2 separate regions of the Homo sapiens genome follow, and region 1 is linked to region 2. Evidence: fine-mapped expression QTL. Tissue or cell type: blood mononuclear cells. Region 2 holds a variant in brackets; the other region holds the start of a gene. All regions are shown on one strand. Distances are from middle to middle.

Region 1 (8,100 bases), 170 kb before region 2:
TAATCCCAGATACTTGGGAGGCTGAGACAGGAGAATCGCTCCGCTTGAACCTGGGGGGCAGAGGTTGCAGTGAGCCGAGATCGAGTCACTGCACTCCAGCCTGGGTGAGAAGGGGAGACTCTGTCTCTAAATCAATTAATCGGTCAATCAATCAATCAATAATAGACATTTCCAGAGAAGAAAATGGAAGGCGGAAAATCATCAACGGCAGAAATAGCACCTCCGAACTCCAGCCTGGGCGACAGAACGAGACTCCATCTCAAAAAACAAACAAAAAATAATAATAACAATAAGGAGTTCAAGACAAATCAATAAATTCTCTGGTTTTTCCTCCCAACTCAACATTTCCATCTTCCTGTTATTTTGTTTTTCAAGAAATAAAATATTACACATAAAGTTGCAGATCCTCATGTCATCCTCCCTTTTTTTGTTTGTTTGTTTTGTTTTTCTCTCTTTCTTTCCTGGGTTAATCTCATCCTGAATTTGATGATTGTCATTGCCATCCATGTTTTCACACTTGACTATACATAAATTTAGTCCTAAACAGTATAGTGCTCATATTCATACTTCAGACTTTATGTATAAATGCCACTGTCCCGCACCTATTATCCTGCACCTTTTTTTTTTTTTTTTTGAGACAGAGTCTCGCTCTGTCACCCAGGCTGGACTGCAGTGGTGAGATCTCGGCTCACTGCAAGCTCCACCTCCTGGGTTCACGCCATTCTCCTGCCTCAGCCTCCCGAGTAGCTGGGATTACAGGCATGTACCACCACATCTGGCTAATTTTTTGTATTTTTAGTAGAGACTGTGTTTCACCATGTTGGCTAGGCTGGTCTCGAACTCCTTACCTCAAGTGATTCACCCACCTGGGCCTCCCAAAGTGCTGGGATTACAGGTGCATTTATTCTTAAATATTGAATAGCTTTTATTGCTTTTTTTCTTTCTTTCTTTTTTTTTTTGAGACAGGATCTCACTCTGTCATTGAGGCTCGAGTGCTGTGGTGCAATCATAGCTCACTGTAGCCTTGACCTTCCAGGCTCAATTGATCTTCCCACTCAGCCTCCCAAGCAGCTGGGACTACAGGTACATACCACCATGTCTGGCTACTTTTTTTTTTTTTTTTGTATTTTTTGTAGAGATAGGGTCTCGTTATGTTGCCTAGGCTTGTCTCAAACTCCTAGGCTCAAGCGATCAGCCTACTCTGCCTCCCAAAGTACTGGGATTACAGGCGTGGGCCACAGCACCTGGCCGGGAAGACTTGATTTTTTAAAAAGATCCCATTAAAAATAGCAATAAAGGCCAGGCTCAGTGGCTCACACCTGTAGTCCCAGCACTTTGGGAGGCTGAGGTTGATGGATCACTGGAGTCCAGGAGCTGGATACCAGCCGTCTCTACAAAAAATAGAAAAATTAGCTGGGCGTGGTGGTGTGTGCCTATAGTGCCACCTACTCAGGAGGCTGAGGTGGGAGGATGGATTAAACCAGGGGGCAAGGGTTGAGGCTGTAGTAAGCTGTGATCACACCACTGCACTCCAGCCTGGGTGACAGAGTGAGACCCTGTCTAAAATAATAGTAATAATAAAGTCTTCCTATCAAAAAGGAACACTTCGGATTTTTGTGTATTGATTTTGTATCCAGAAACCTGATTGTGATTGTGATTGTGATGGGAGAGTGGCAGTGCACCACGTGACTAGGACTTCTGATGTTCTCGTATCCTTGCATTCCAGAGACAGCCCTACCAGATCATGGCTACATTCAATTTTCTAGTAATTTATTTATCATTTTAAAGAGATGCTTTTATACAGAATTTGTAATCTGAGAAACTGGCTGGGCAGTGTGACTTCATCTGTCAGAGAGGCAAAAGGCTTATGCAGAGTGGGCTGTTTGGCCTTGGATCCTGGAGCAGCCTTCTTTGCCTTTATTGACCCTTCTGTGCCTTCTGTGTGCCCTTTGGCTAGCTTCTTCTCCTGCCAATCACAATCACACCCTCTTCACTACGTTTTTGTTTTAAATTTTATTTTATTTTTTGTTGAGACAGAGTCTCACTCTATCTCCCAGGCTGGAGTTCAGTGGTAGGATCTCAGCTCACTGCAACTGCCGCCTCGTCCACCTCCCGGGTTCAAGTGATTCTCCTGCCTCAGGTTCCCAAGTAGCTGGTATTACAGGCGTGCCCACCACGCCTGGCTAATTTTTGTATTTTTTAGTAGAGATGGGGTTTTGCCATGTTGGTCAGGCTGGTCTCGAACTCCTGACCTCAAGTGATCCACCCGCCTCAGCCTCCCAAAGTGTTGGGATTACTGTCGTGAGCCACCGCGCCTGGTTCTTCACTACGTTTTAGATTCTTTTTAGATTGTGCTCCATTGAGAGCTCAAGCAATACAGCCACCCAGGTTTTCGTAACTCTCCATGGCGCTCACCACAGTATTTACGCAAGGAGGTCCACGCTATGATGAAGTGGTGTCTACTGTTGAATTGATGAGTTCCTCTTTATTAACCTACTATAGTTTCATTTTACTCTTAGCCGTCAGGAAGCTAAGAGCTGAGTTCTGTGCTCAGTGGCAACATATTTCCTTGACTATGGATTTTTAAAATATTGTTTTTCTGGCCGGGCGCGGTGGCTCATTCCTGTAATCCCAGCACTTTGAGAGGCTGAGACAGGTGGATCACCTGAGGTCAGGAGTTCAAGACCAACCTGACCAACATAGTGAAACACCGTCTCTACTAAAAATACAAAAATTAGCCGGGCGTGGTGGCAGGCACCTGTAATCCCAGCTACTCGGGAGGCTGAGGCAGGAGAATCGCTTGAACCTGGGAGGCGGAGGTTGCAGAGATTTGACATCGTGCCACTGAGCTCAGCCTGGGCGAGAGTAAAACTCTGTCTCAAAACAAAACAAAAAAATTTTTCTTTCTAGGCATGCCTCTCATTCAAACAGCTTTTAAAAAGTCTCTTGCTTGTTTCATTATTATGAATTTTACGCCTATTTTAAAGCTATACGGTTTCACTGCTGTATGCTTTAGTGTAAGCTATGTCAAATCCTTTTGCAGGTAGGTGGAGCTTAAATTCTATAAAATGAGACGTGATCAATAAAAGCGGATGAAGAGTCTGAGGACTTGAGTGGTGGTGGAGATTTTCCAGAATTATTAGTGTAGAAAATTAATTTCGATGTTTTAGTGCATATGCTTGTACATAATACCTTTTACTCACAATAATACTGTATTTAATTCAGGGGAAGACATGTGATTTTACTTTCAATGTCTGCTAGTAAATAAAAATAATTCACAACCTTATAAAGTAATAGTGCTCGGCCTGGGCCTGATAATTGAATATATTATCACTGAAGATTATATTTTGTTAAGTACTGAATTGAACAGTTTCTGAACAGTGAGATTTTTCTTTCCAGCTGAATCTAAATCTGATTTTAAAGAAATCACTGCTCGTGCTTTTGTGTCCTCCGGGTTTCTAACTTCCACTCTCCCTCCTTCAAGGGCATCTCCCAGAAGGGGGCTGGGCTCGTTAACTCAGGGACGGTGCAAAGCGTTTGTTCCTCTCCTCACAGCCCTTCCGCGGTCTCCCAAGGAGACAAGTGGAATGCCCACCAAGTCATGCTTTTCCATTACTCATTCCGCCTTCTCTCCCGAGGTGGCGCGTGGGAGGTGTTTTGCTCGGGTTCTGTAAGAATAGGCCAGGCAGCTTCCCGCGGGATGCGCTCATCCCCTCTCGGGGTTCCGCTCCCACCGCGCCGCGTTCGGCCGGTTCCGCCTGCGAGATGTTTTCCGACGGACAATGATTCCACTCTCGGCGCCTCCCATGTTGATCCCAGCTCCTCTGCGGGCGTCAGGACCCCTGGGCCCCGCCCCGCTCCACTCAGTCAATCTTTTGTCCCCGTATAAGGCGGATTATCGGGGTGGCTGGGGGCGGCTGATTCCGACGAATGCCCTTGGGGGTCACCCGGGAGGGAACTCCGGGCTCCGGCTTTGGCCAGCCCGCACCCCTGGTTGAGCCGGCCCGAGGGCCACCAGGGGGCGCTCGATGTTCCTGCAGCCCCCCGCAGCAGCCCCACTCCCCGGCTCACCCTACGATTGGCTGGCCGCCCCGAGCTCTGTGCTGTGATTGGTCACAGCCCGTGTCCGTCGCGGGCGCCGGGGCGGATACGAGGTGACGCGCAGAGGCCCAGCTCGGGGCGGTGTCCCGCGCCGGCGACTGCGGGCGGAGTTTCGCGAGGGCCGAAGCGGGGCAGTGTGACGGCAGCGGTCCTGGGAGGCGCCCGCGCGCGTCGGAGCAGCTCCCCGTCCTCCGCAGCCGTCACCGCCGGCCGTCGCCGCGCCCTGGCCTCCCGCACTCGCGCACTCCTGTCCGCCGCCCACCGCCCACCTCCCACCTCGATGCGGTGCCGGGCTGCTGCGTGATGGGGCTGCGGAGCGGCGCCCTGCGGCTCGCGGCGGCCGCTGCTCGCGCTGAGGTGCGTCGGTGCCCGGCCCCCCGCGCCCCCGCGCGCCGCGGCTCCTGTTGACCCGGTCCGCCCGTCGGTCTGCAGCGCGGCTGAGGTAAGGCGGCGGGGCTGGCCGCGGTTGGCGCCGCGGTCGCGGGGTTGGGGAGGGGGCCGCTTCCGCGGGGAGGAGCGGCCGGGCCGGGGTCCGGGCGGGGTCTGAGGGGAGGTAGCGCGGGACGGGCGCCGGGTGCGGGAGCCTCGCCCTCGGGGGAGGGGACCCCTCCCTAGGCCAGCAGCGAGTCCCGGGCCGGCGTCCAGCGGTCGGCTGGGGCCCCCGCAGTGCCCTGCACCGGCCCTCCGTTTCCCCCGCGCTGCCAGGCCCCGGCTGTGCCCAGCGCTCTCCAGACCCGCCGCTGCCTGGCCGTTCCCTGGGCTCCGCGCACGTTGCAGCCCGGGGGGCGGCTGTGCTTCGTTTGAAGCCATCGTTTCTCATTTTCCCTCTCCCCTTTCCTCCTTTGTGGTGGGCATCGGGCTTCGGCTGGGAATGTGGTTATGCCCTTTGCCAGATGGCGATAGGAAAGGTCATCGCTTGGCGCTGGGGGAGCCGAGGGCTCGAGGCCTGGAAAGAGGGGTGCGATAGGAAGGGAGGGGGCTTGTTGGATGCTGGCCAGGTGTGAGGAAGGCTGGTGTGGTCTCGGCATTCAGCCGACTGGGATTACTCGGGCAGCCATATTGGGAGGATGATCTGACAAATCCTTTAGGAGCCAAGTCCAGTTGTTGGAAGGCACCGAGTGACAGCCCTGGCAGCTTTCAGGGTGACTGGCCAGACCAGAAGCCAAGTTGTGGGGGTTGGGAGGCTGCTTGAGCAAGCTAGTCATTGTTCATGCAACACAAAACATTCCCGCCCCTAACGCCAGAATGGAGCTTCCAGATCCCTTTTTTTTTTTTTCCTTGATTGCTAAATGAGCTTCCAAGGTAAACTGCCTTCAAGATTCCATTCTTGTTGGGGTGAAATTCCGTGTTTCTCTATTCATCTTCTGCGTCCAGTGCGGGGGCTGTGAAAGGCCTGCTGATGCTTTACATGTGCATAGGCCGATCTGAGAATTGCTAAGGCCACTGTATCAGTATGGAGGCCTCGAGTAGCCGTAGAGCATTGGATGGATAGATTTTCAGAGTCGCTCGACTTGCAGAGAAGAAGTAAACCAGAGTATTCTGATAGTGGGCGAGGCTAGTGGCGGCATTTCTGAGGACGCAGGCTGTCATCTTTGTGGAATCTCGAGGTAGCTGAAATTAGATTGTCAACAGATCCCTTGCTCATATCTCTTACTGCTCTGAGCAGCTGTTCTGCCACCATTGAACATTCCGCTTTGTGTCATGATGTGCCTGTCTGAGCCTGATGAAAGTGTGCTGATGAGATTTGAATAACTCTTAAGAGGTGATATCATGGTGGATATTTTATTTAAAGGCTGGCATTTTGTCTCCTTAGTTTAGTCATAACAAAATCTAGTTCTTGTGTTCCTCTAAGAAGTGAGGTGGTGCTTTCTGATTAAGTTGATATGGTTGCTGGATTATAGAGCAAGTGTTGTTAATGTATTGTTTGAAGGTGGAATATGAGAATTACACATAGGTTGGTATTGTAAAGCAGGTCTGGAGATGATCAATAACTGGGTTCAGCATGAGTCTGTAGATCTGTTCTTTTCTATATCCTAGATGTGGACAGGACCTGGAGAGATGGCATGCCTGCTTTCTTCTTTGTGGCCTTTGCTTTCATTCAAGTTCAATTTGTTCATAAATACATTCTCATAACTTCTCAGGTTGAACTATGTAAAAAATTTTGGGATGGGTGTGGTGGCTCATGCCTTGTAATCCCAACACTTTGGGAGGCTGAGACAGGAGGATCCCTTGAGCTCAGGAGTTCGAGACCACCCTGGGCAACAGAGTGGGACTCTGTCTCTACAAAAATAAATGAATAAATAAATACCTGGGCATGGTGGCTCATGCCTGTATTCCCAGCTATTTGGGAGACTGAGGTGGGAGGATTGCTTGAGGCTAGCCTGGGCAACAGCAAGACCCTGGCTAAAAAAAAAAATGTGTATATATATATGTGTGTGTGTGCATGCGTGTGTGTATATATATATATATATATATATATATATATATATATATATACACACACACATTTAAAAAATTTGGATAGCTTTTGCTAAGCAAGGTCTTAACACTATTTTTTTGTTATTTTTGTCATCAAGCTTTAGTTTTAAAACTTGTTGAATCAAATGTAACTTCAACAGAAACTAGTGTTTTTTGCATTACACTAGTATGAGAGAAATACAGAATGTCTGTTTTGAAATTCCATGCCCTAAGTTAGAAGTATTTCTAAGTTTTTAATTTTTAGAGTTACTTTATTAGTATAAAGATCTGAATATTTTTGATTAAAAATAATTTCAGCATTTGGTAAAATCAGACCTGATTGTGAATCTGATACAGAGGCTAGGTTTTATGAGTATGTGTAGCTCTGCTCTGATGAGTGTTTTTCCAAAATTTATCCAATTAAGTATAGCTTTTAAGGCTTAGAACAGACTGTTTTTCCTTTTCAAGACCAGATATGAATGCACTTTTCCTTTTTTCTCTCTTTCTTCTTTCCCATTTTGATTTCGTGCAGGGAATAAGTGTCCAAGAAAGTCTGCCAACGGAGTCTTTCTTAAGGCCAAAGCTTTTTAGCCCATTTTCTCACTGTGGTCTTGTCCTGGGTACAAAGTAAAGGACAATGGGCCCCCTGCCTTCCTGTTTGTAATCCCCTTCCCAGGCTGCTAATCATAGTAGATCTTTTCCAGGAGGAAGCATATCCTTTTGGTCTTGTAAACTAACATGATATAATTTCATAATGCTCTGAAGTTATTTTATGTCTATTTCATGTATTTCTCTTTGAAAGATGGCCTCGTTTGAACAGGTACTGGTGAATATCTGGATTCTGTGAAACAGTGTGAATAAATATGCATACTTCTTGAACTTTTTTTGTGCAGCTTGTCAGGATAGAAGAGAAATTAAACAGATGTGACTGTGGTAGGAAAAACCTGCAAAAGGTGCCTTGGGCCGGATGCAGTGGCTCACATCTGTAATCCCAGTGCTTTGGGAGGCTGAGGCGGGAGGATTGCTTCACATCAAGAGTTTGAGACAAGCTTGGACAACATAGCAGGACCCCCATCTCTACCAAAAAAAAAAAAATCTGGATGTGGGTGGTGTGTGTTTGTAGTCCTAGTGCTTCGGAGGCTGAGTGGGGAGGATGGCTTGAGTTTGAGATTACAGTGAGCTAAGACAGCGCCATTGCACTCCACTCTGGGCTCAGACTTTGCCTGCTAAAAATAAAAAGATGCCTTGGACTTCTCAGAGTTGAACTGTTTGGTTAACGGGCCACTGATTCATTGATGCTCTTTTACTATAGGCATTACCCATTAACTGAGGGTGCATGTAGAGATTTAGTTCTTTACCTTCCAGGAACTCACACTTTACCACTTCTTTCTTTCTTTCTTTCTTTTTTTTTTTTAAGACAGAGTCTCGCCCTGTCACCCAGGCTGGAGTGCATTGGTGTGATCTCAGCTCACTGCAACCTCCGCCTCCCGGGTTCAAATGATTCTCCTGCCTCAGCCTCCCAAGTAGCTGGGATTACAGGCA
Region 2 (8,101 bases):
TTTAAAAGGCAGGAAAGAGAATTCTTAGGCAAATTCAGAGAAATAAGTGCTAGTTAATACTAATCACCTCCTCCTCTGTCTCTCATCCTCCTTTCTCCCATCAAAGCAAAATATGGCCTCACCACCAGCCCCAAATCAGTGCTCAGACCCTCTCTGTGTCTGTGTGCCCTCCTGGGAGTCAGTCAGCGCTCAGGCCAGGACTGTGCAGGGCCAGCCAGCCCATGCGCTAGTCAGGAGCACAGGCAAGGGGTGCTTGTGGCAGTGGCCGGGCACCTGAGCCCCAGCTCGTTGTTAAACGTGCTGACGGCAAGGGGCAATGGAGTGAGTTTCCCAACTAAGAAACCACTATTATATATTTTTTCCCTTCAGTCACATAGACTTCAGACAACTCTCCTATTTTTTATGGATTTTTCAGCTCATTTCAGATGAAGGAACTAAGTCATTGTGAACTGTCTCTTGAGATCTAAAAACAAGATGACTTTTCCTGGCACATATTCCAAAGCAAAGACTTTGTTGCCTGCTGCTTATTGTCTAATTTACAGGGATATTTAATTTTGTCAGGTCTATGTATATTTATCCAGCTATACTTACTTGCACAGTGGATTGGAGAGAAAGGATTCTCCAGTGTGCACACTCATCGGTACTCTTTCTGCATTTCCCTCGTGCTGTGTCCCGCTCGGGTTCCAATGGACAGTATCAGGGCTTGTTTGACTTAGGTCTTTCAGTTTTCCTTTCGGTTCCCTTTTAAAAATGTGATTGTTAACCTGCCTCTTGAAAGATTCAACCGGGTGTGGTGGCTCACGCCTGTAATCCCAGCACATTGGGAGGCCAAGGCAGGTGGATCACCTGAGGTCAGAAGTTTGAGACCAGCCTGGCCAACATGGTGAAACCCCGTCTCTACTAAAAATACAAAAAGTAGCCAGGCGTGGTGGCGTGTGCCTGTAGTCCCAGCTACTTGGGAGGCTGAGGCAGGAGAATAGCTTGAACCTGGGAGGTGGAGGCTGCAGTGAGTTGAGACTGCACCATTGCACTCCAGCCTGGGTGACAAAGCAGGACTCCGTCTCAAAAAAAAAGAAAAGATTCATGATGCTGCTGCTCCCAGAAGGTTTGCTGGATGTGTTTACATAGGACTCTAACTTGTGTGCACTACAGTTGTTCACCAGGGCCAGTGATTCACCCCAGTGTGTGGCCAGACCATGACTGTGTAGCAGGAATGTTTTAATTTGTGCTTCCTTAGTAAATTGAAATATCAGCTGAGAGATTATTTGCTGCTGTTATTCAAAAGGCCATTTATGAAGTTAGTATTTGAGCCCCATAAGATCTTTAAAAAGCCTCCAATCATTTAAAGGAAGAAATCAGAGTTGCTATAAAATTCAGTAAAAAGCTCATAGCCAAACGGCTGTGCTCAGATGGAAAGTCTGAGCTGAGGTTGGTCTCTTGCCAAACCGTGGCTGTTGTGTGTTGTTCTTCATGTCTTCGAGTTCATTTTTTTTCATTCTGCCTATTCTGGCATCAGCTCACTTGAGGAGTCCCTCAGCCTTCTTGTATTTAAGGCATCGTCTTAGACTTTGTGGCTCTAAAGTACCTGTCTGTTGAGATTTCAAGTCTCTTGTCACCATCCTCACACATGACAACAAAACCCATAATGCATAAGTGGCCTTTTTGAACCAAGACTTTGCAAACTGATCTCTCCCCCGTGAAGGAGTTGAGCACATTAGCAACAATGTACATTAATTTTGGATTTTCATTTTCATGTTTTATTTTGTAAATATTATCTGATGTTTGGAGCTTGAGTATACAGACTGTAAATATAGTTCTTGTATTTGTACTAATTCTGATTCTTTTGCTGTATAGCCTTAGATGTGCAATGCAGACACTATCTAACTGTGTGTGGTAACCTTGCGTCACGGAGCTGTTAGTGAACGAGGTAAAAATAATAAAGGTACAGCCAGTGCATCAGAAGGTTCTCGATGTGCATTTATTCTTGCACCCCTTGAAAGGTAATTGCACAAAGATTTCTTTTCTTGATTTGCAAAGATAATACCTTTCTAAGACAGAAGTCACGATATCATCGCTTAAGTATTCCTTTCTGATATTCAAAATCGTGGTTTTTATATAACCAAGAAAGCTAATATGGTGCTGTTTCTTTGAAAGTACTTTTCTCCCAAAGATGTAAGTGGTTATTTTAGCTAGAAGATTTGTTGTTTTTCTCCTGAAGCCTCCTTGTATGCCTTCCAATAATTCTGTAGTGTTGTGTTGGCTTCTTTTTTTTTTTTTTTTTCTTTTTGAGACAGAGTCTTGCTCTGTCACCCATGCTGGAGTGCAGTGATGTGATCTCGGGTCACTGCAACCTCTGCCTCCTGGGTTCAAGCGATTCTCCTGCCTCAGACTCCTGAGTAGCTGGGATTACAGGCGTGCGCCACCATGCGTGGCTAATTTTTGTATTATTATTATTATTATTATTATTATTATTTTATTTATTTATTTATTTATTTTGAGATGGAGTCTCACTCTGTCGTCCAGGCTGGAGTACAGTGGCATGATCTCGGCTCACTGCAACTTTCCACCTCCCGGGTTCAAGCGATTCTCCCTGCCTCAGCCTCCCAAGTAGCTGGGATTACAGGCATCCATCACGCCTGGCTGATTTTATTTTTAGTAGAGAGGGGTTTCACTGTGTTGGCCAGGCTGGTCTCAAGCTCCTGACCTTGTGATCCACCCGCCTCAGCCTCCCAAAGTGCTAGGATTACAGGCTTGAGCCACCGTGCCCAACCTATAATTATTTTTTTGAGATGGAGTTTGACTCTTGTCACCCATGCTGGTGTGCAATGGCACCATCTCAGCTCACTGCAACCTCTGCCTCCCCAGTTCAAACAATTCTCTTTCCTCAGCCTCCCAGGTAGTTGCAATTACAGGTGCCCGCCACCACACCTGGCTAATTTTTAAAAATATTTTTAGTAGAGACGGGGTTTCAGCACATTGGCCAGACTGGTCTCAAACTCCTGACCTCAGGTGATCCGCCCACCTCGGCCTCCCAAAGTGCTGGGATTACAGGCGTGAGCCACCGTGCCTGGCCATGTTGGGTTTTTTTGGGTGGGGAAGGGTAAATGGGGATTTGAAAAGTTGAACATGTCAATTTAATTTAACAAGCCCTCATCA[C/T]GAGCAGAGCATGAGCAGGGGCCACTGTCCTGGGTGTTTGGGGAGAAACAGAAGAAGGGAGGGAGGAGCAGCCCTCAGGTTAAAAGCAATGATTTGTTCCAACCAATATTTGAGTACCCACCCTGTGCCTGGTGTGCTGCTGGGTGCAGTAATTCAGCAGCCAACAAAGCAAGCCCATGCACTTGTGCCCTCCCATTCCAGTGGGGAAGACAATGTTTAAACAAATTTACAACATCGGTCCTAAGTATTTTGGAGGAAAGCAGCTAAATAAAAGGATGAAAGAGGGATGGGAACGAGGGATGTTTAGATGGCATAGTCAGGGAAGGCCTCTCTTCGGAGATCACATTTGAGCAGACTCTAGAATGAAAGGATAGGGTAAGCCATGCAAACCCCTGGGCAAAGAGGTCTCCAAGTAGAGAAATGAAGCCCTTGAGGCAGCAGTGTCCTCAGTAGGTTCCAGAAATAGCAAGGTCGCTGGTACAGAGTCAGGGACTGGGAGCGCAATAGAAGACATCAGAAAGTAGCCAGGGACCAGGATATTTAGGGCTTAGGTGAGGACTTGGAATTTCATTAGAGTGAATGGGAAGCCATTGAAGGCTTTGGAGCAGAGGAGTCACAGGGGCTTATTTACATTTTTAAAAGACCATTCTGGAAAACAGTCTTTGTACTCAGGCAGGGACAAGTGGAAAAAAGGGGCAAAATAAGATTGTTACCCCAGTATTCCAGGGGAGGAGACGGTGGCTCAGACTAAGGTAGTAGAGTATAGGTGGGACGAAATGGGCAGATTCAAGGTACATTTTGAAGTTAGAACAGTTTTCTGAGAGACTTCATGCAGAGTTGTTGGAGAGAAAGGAGAAAAGTAACTAAAAGGGTAAGTGCCTGAGTAAAAGAACAGCATTGCAGTTTTCTAAGGTGAAGACAATTGGTAGAACAAAAGCTGAGAATGGTCATGCCTGTAATCCCAGCACTTTGGGAAGCCAAGGTGGGAGGATCACTGGAGCCCAAGACTTCGAGACCGACCAGCCTGGGCAATGTAGTGAGACCCCATCTCTACAAACAATTAAAAATTAGCTGGGCATGATGGTGCACGCCAGTAGTGCCAGATACCCAGGAGACTAAGGCAGAAGGATCGCTTGAGCCCAGGAGTTGGAAGCTGCAGTGAGCTGTGATCTTGCCACTGCACTCCAGCCTGGTCAACAGAGTTGAGACCCTGACTGTTAAGAAAATAGCACTTTGGGAGGCCGAGGCGGGCAGATCACCTGAGGTCAGGAGTTTGAGGCCAGCCTGGCCAACATGGTGAAACCCCGTCTCTACTAAAAATACAAAAATTAGCGGGGCGTGGTGGCAGGCGCCTGTAATCCCAGCTATTTGGGAGGCTGAGACAGGAGAACCGCTTGGACCCAGGAGGCAGAGGTTGCAGTGATCTGAGATCACGCCACTGCACTCCAGCCTGAGCAACAGAGAGCGAAACTGTCTCAAAATAATAATAATAATTTGATTTGAGTCATGTTCACTTTCAGATGCCAACACATGCACCTAAGTGTATAGTCAACAAAACAGTTGGCTGGACTAGCGGGATTCAAGGGGAGTGGTTGGAGCTGGAGACACACATTTGGGAGTTGGCGGCATGAAGATAGCAGATCGAGCCTCAGGCAGGGAAGGAGACCTGGAGCGTGTGTGTGGCTGACAGGAACCAAGGACTGATCTTGGAGCTTGGTGCGCTCCAACACATGGAGGTCAGGAAGAGAGAGGAGTCCAGCCAGGAGGACAAGCAGTGGCCGTGGAGGGAGAGTGTGGAAGACTGAGGAAGTGGTTGCTTTGTCCAGGGCAGCCAATAGGTTACAGGAAGGACTGAGCAGGGACCACAGGTTTTGTTAACTGAAAGGTGTAAGAAGTCCGAGGGAGCCAGGGGATACCCTAATTTTTCCCAATTTCAGAACCAATTAAGAAACAAAAAATAAGACGATGGGAGATGGGAGACCAAAATACCACCCTTATTACTGATAAAACTGCTGTTAGAAAATGTGGTTACATCTGGGAACACTGGATTTCTTTTCTTTTCTTTTTTTTTTGTGATGGCATCTCGCTCTGTCGCCCAGGCTGGAGTGCAGTGGTGTCATCTTGGCTCACTGCAAGCTCCGCCTCCCAGATTCACACCATTCTCCTGCCTCAGCCTCCCCAGTAGCTGGGACTACAGGCACCCGCCACCGCGCCCGGCTAATTTTTTTTTTTGTATTTTTAGTAGAGACGGGGCTTCACCATGTTAGCCAGGATGGTCTCGATCTCCTGACCTCATGGTCTGCCCGCCTCAGCCTCCCAAAGTGCTGGAATTACAGGCGTGAGCCACCGCGCCCGGCCTGGATTTATTTTGTAAGGCTGAACCTCAGAATGAGGCGGTTTAGAGCAGTGCTTCTTGAACTTTATTGTGCACCAGAATCCCCTGGGGATCGTACTAAAATGCAGGTTCTGATTGAGTAGGGCTTGGGTGGAGCCTGAGATTCTGCTTTTCTAATAAGCTTCCAAGTGATGTCAGTATTGCCATTGTGGGGATCACTCTTTGAGTAGCAGAAGTTAAGAGGAACGCAGCGCATATGTCCCCTGAAGGCAGCCGAGGTTCTGAGAGAGAGGGAGGAAGTGGCCAGGCAGTCTATGCCTAACCGCTCCTTCCAGACTCACAGGAACATTCTAGTAATGGGGCTCACTTCTCATGGAGGGAGGCATCAGGAGTGCTTCTACACTAGCAAGGTCATTGGTGAGGGGAGCATTTGTTTGAGTGGTGCCTAATTGGAGTAGGTTCTAGGGAAAGTGGGAGGAGAGGAGGGTGAAACAGTACAAACAATTCTTTCATAGATTTTTCTGTAAAAGGGAAAAGACAAATGGAGTAACTGGAAGGGGATATGGGGTAAAGGAGAGGCTTTTGTTTTAAAGAAGGGAAATAGCATAGCTTGTGCATGTACTAATTGGAAAAAATGAACTGGGAGGGAAAACCTGGCAGTGGGGAAGACAGTGAGGTGGAGAGAGTTGTGGAGTGGGCCTGAGGGACTGGGGGCCAGTGCACAGCAGAGAGGTAGGTCCTAGATCCAACTGAGCACCCTGGCTTATATCCACAGTGCTGCCGACAGCTCAGTGATAGGAACACTGCAAGTCTCTGGATTGCTAGGACTCTTCAGTCTTAAGTTAATGTCTGGCTGGGCGTGGTGGCTCATGCCTGTAATCCCAGCACTTTGGGAGGCTAAGGCGGGTGGATCACCTGAGCTCAGGAGTTCAAAACCAGCCTGGCCAACATGGTGAAACCCTGTCTCTACTAAAAATACAAAAATTAGCTGGGCATGGTGGTGGGTACCTGTAATCCCAGCTACTCGGGAGGCTGAGGCTGGAGAATCACTTGAACCCGGGAGGCAGAGGTTGCGGTGAGCCGGGATCACACCATTGCACTCCAGCCTGGGCTACAGAGCGAGATTTTTGTCTCAAAAAAAAAAAAAAAAAAAAAGTTAGTTAATGTCAGCTCTAGGGCTTATGTCAGGCCACGTCTTCCTGAAACTGGACTTGCAGTTTAAAATGGGAGATCATCCCCGAATCAGTGCATATTATGCTGGTTGTGCCCTCAACTAGACCTCACCCAGGAGCATGTAGGATTGAATCCTCACTAGGGTTGCACGCTTAGTAAATCCCCATGTCTCTTGCAAAGCTGATAGTTTGGGAAGTCAGGTGACCCATGGAAGCATGCATGAGTCTGGTGCGCTGCTTTTCTTTTGTTGTTGTTGTTTTGAGACGGAGTCTTGCTCCGTCGCCCAGGCTGGAGTGCAGTGGCACAATCTCGGCTCACTGCAAGCTCCGCCTCCTGGGTTCACGCCATTCTCCTGCCTCAGCTTCCTGAGTAGCTGGGACTACAGGCGCCCGCCACCACGCCTGGCTAATTTTTTGTATTTCTTAGTAGAGACAGGGTTTCACCGTGTTAGCCAGGATGGTCTTGATCTCCTGACCTTGTGATCTGCCCACCTCGGCCTCCCAAAGTGCTGGGATTACAGGTGTGGGCCACTGCGCCTGGCCCGGGCTCGTGCGCTGCTTTTCTATCTGGTTCTTCTTGTTATTCCACTTGCGGTTGGATGGGGAGATATTCCACTTTCCCTTAGGAACTCTTGTCCCTGCACAGACCATTTTAGCTATTCTGAGCACATCACAAGCATACTCCTCTGGGGTGAGAATATATAGCCTCTGGGCTTTTTCAGAATTGCTCCTTCTGCTACTCTGGAAGCTAACGTGGAATGATTGCTTGAGTCCAGCAGTTCAAGGCCAGCATGGGCAACAAAGCAAGAACCTGTTTCTTTAAAAAAAAAAAAAAAAAAAAAAAAAGGCGGGGGGAGCAGGCATGGTGGCTTACACCTGTAATCCCAGCACTTTGAGAGGCCGTGGCAGGAGGATCACTTGAAGCCAGAGCTCAAAACCAGCCTGGGCAACTTAGTGAGCCCCCATTTCTACAAAAAATAAAAACAATTAACTGGGCATGGTGGTACACACCTGTAGCCTCAGCTACTCAGGAAGCTGAGATGGGAGGATCCCTTGAGCCCAGGAGTTTGAGACTGCAGTGAGCTATGATGGTGCCACTGGCGCCTGGGTAACAAAGCAAGACCCTGTCTCAAAAAAAAAAAAAAAAAAAAAAAGGAGCTGGGCATAGTGGCATGTGCCTGTAAATGAAAGGCATCATTTCATGCAAGCTCCTCTGAGCCCAGGAGTTCCAGCCTAGCCCAGGCAACAGGGCAAGACCACGTCTCAAAAAAAAAAAAAGTACTCTTTCCACCTAAAATATATTCAGGTCATTTGAGTTCAGTTTGAGTTCAGCTACGAGAATTATTTAGTTGAGTGAGTGTCAGAGCTGGGATTTTCAAATCTGCCCTTACTGGTATGTTGCTTTACACACCCTCTTACGTAAATCAAACTAGGATTC

What was found. PIP is the estimated chance that this variant, and not a neighbour inherited with it, causes the effect.
Region 1: it holds the start of KIF1B, and the variant in region 2 is fine-mapped to the expression of KIF1B in blood mononuclear cells (TOPMed, PIP above 0.99). The same link has a PIP of 0.9 or more in T cells.

What each region holds. Positions count from the first base shown.
Region 1 is chr1:10,206,336-10,214,435 of GRCh38, forward strand. It overlaps KIF1B (kinesin family member 1B), which reads left to right and starts at 4,235. Exons shown (of 49, transcript NM_001365951.3): 1 at 4,235-4,543. RefSeq lists silencers at 3,456-3,750, 3,837-3,916, 3,947-4,466 and an enhancer at 5,368-6,023.
Region 2 is chr1:10,379,642-10,387,742 of GRCh38, forward strand. It overlaps KIF1B (kinesin family member 1B), which reads left to right. Exons shown (of 49, transcript NM_001365951.3): 49 at 1-1,962. Among named protein-coding and RNA genes, the nearest start is that of PGD, 15 kb to the right of the region's middle. The variant C/T (reference allele first, on the strand shown) is at 3,157.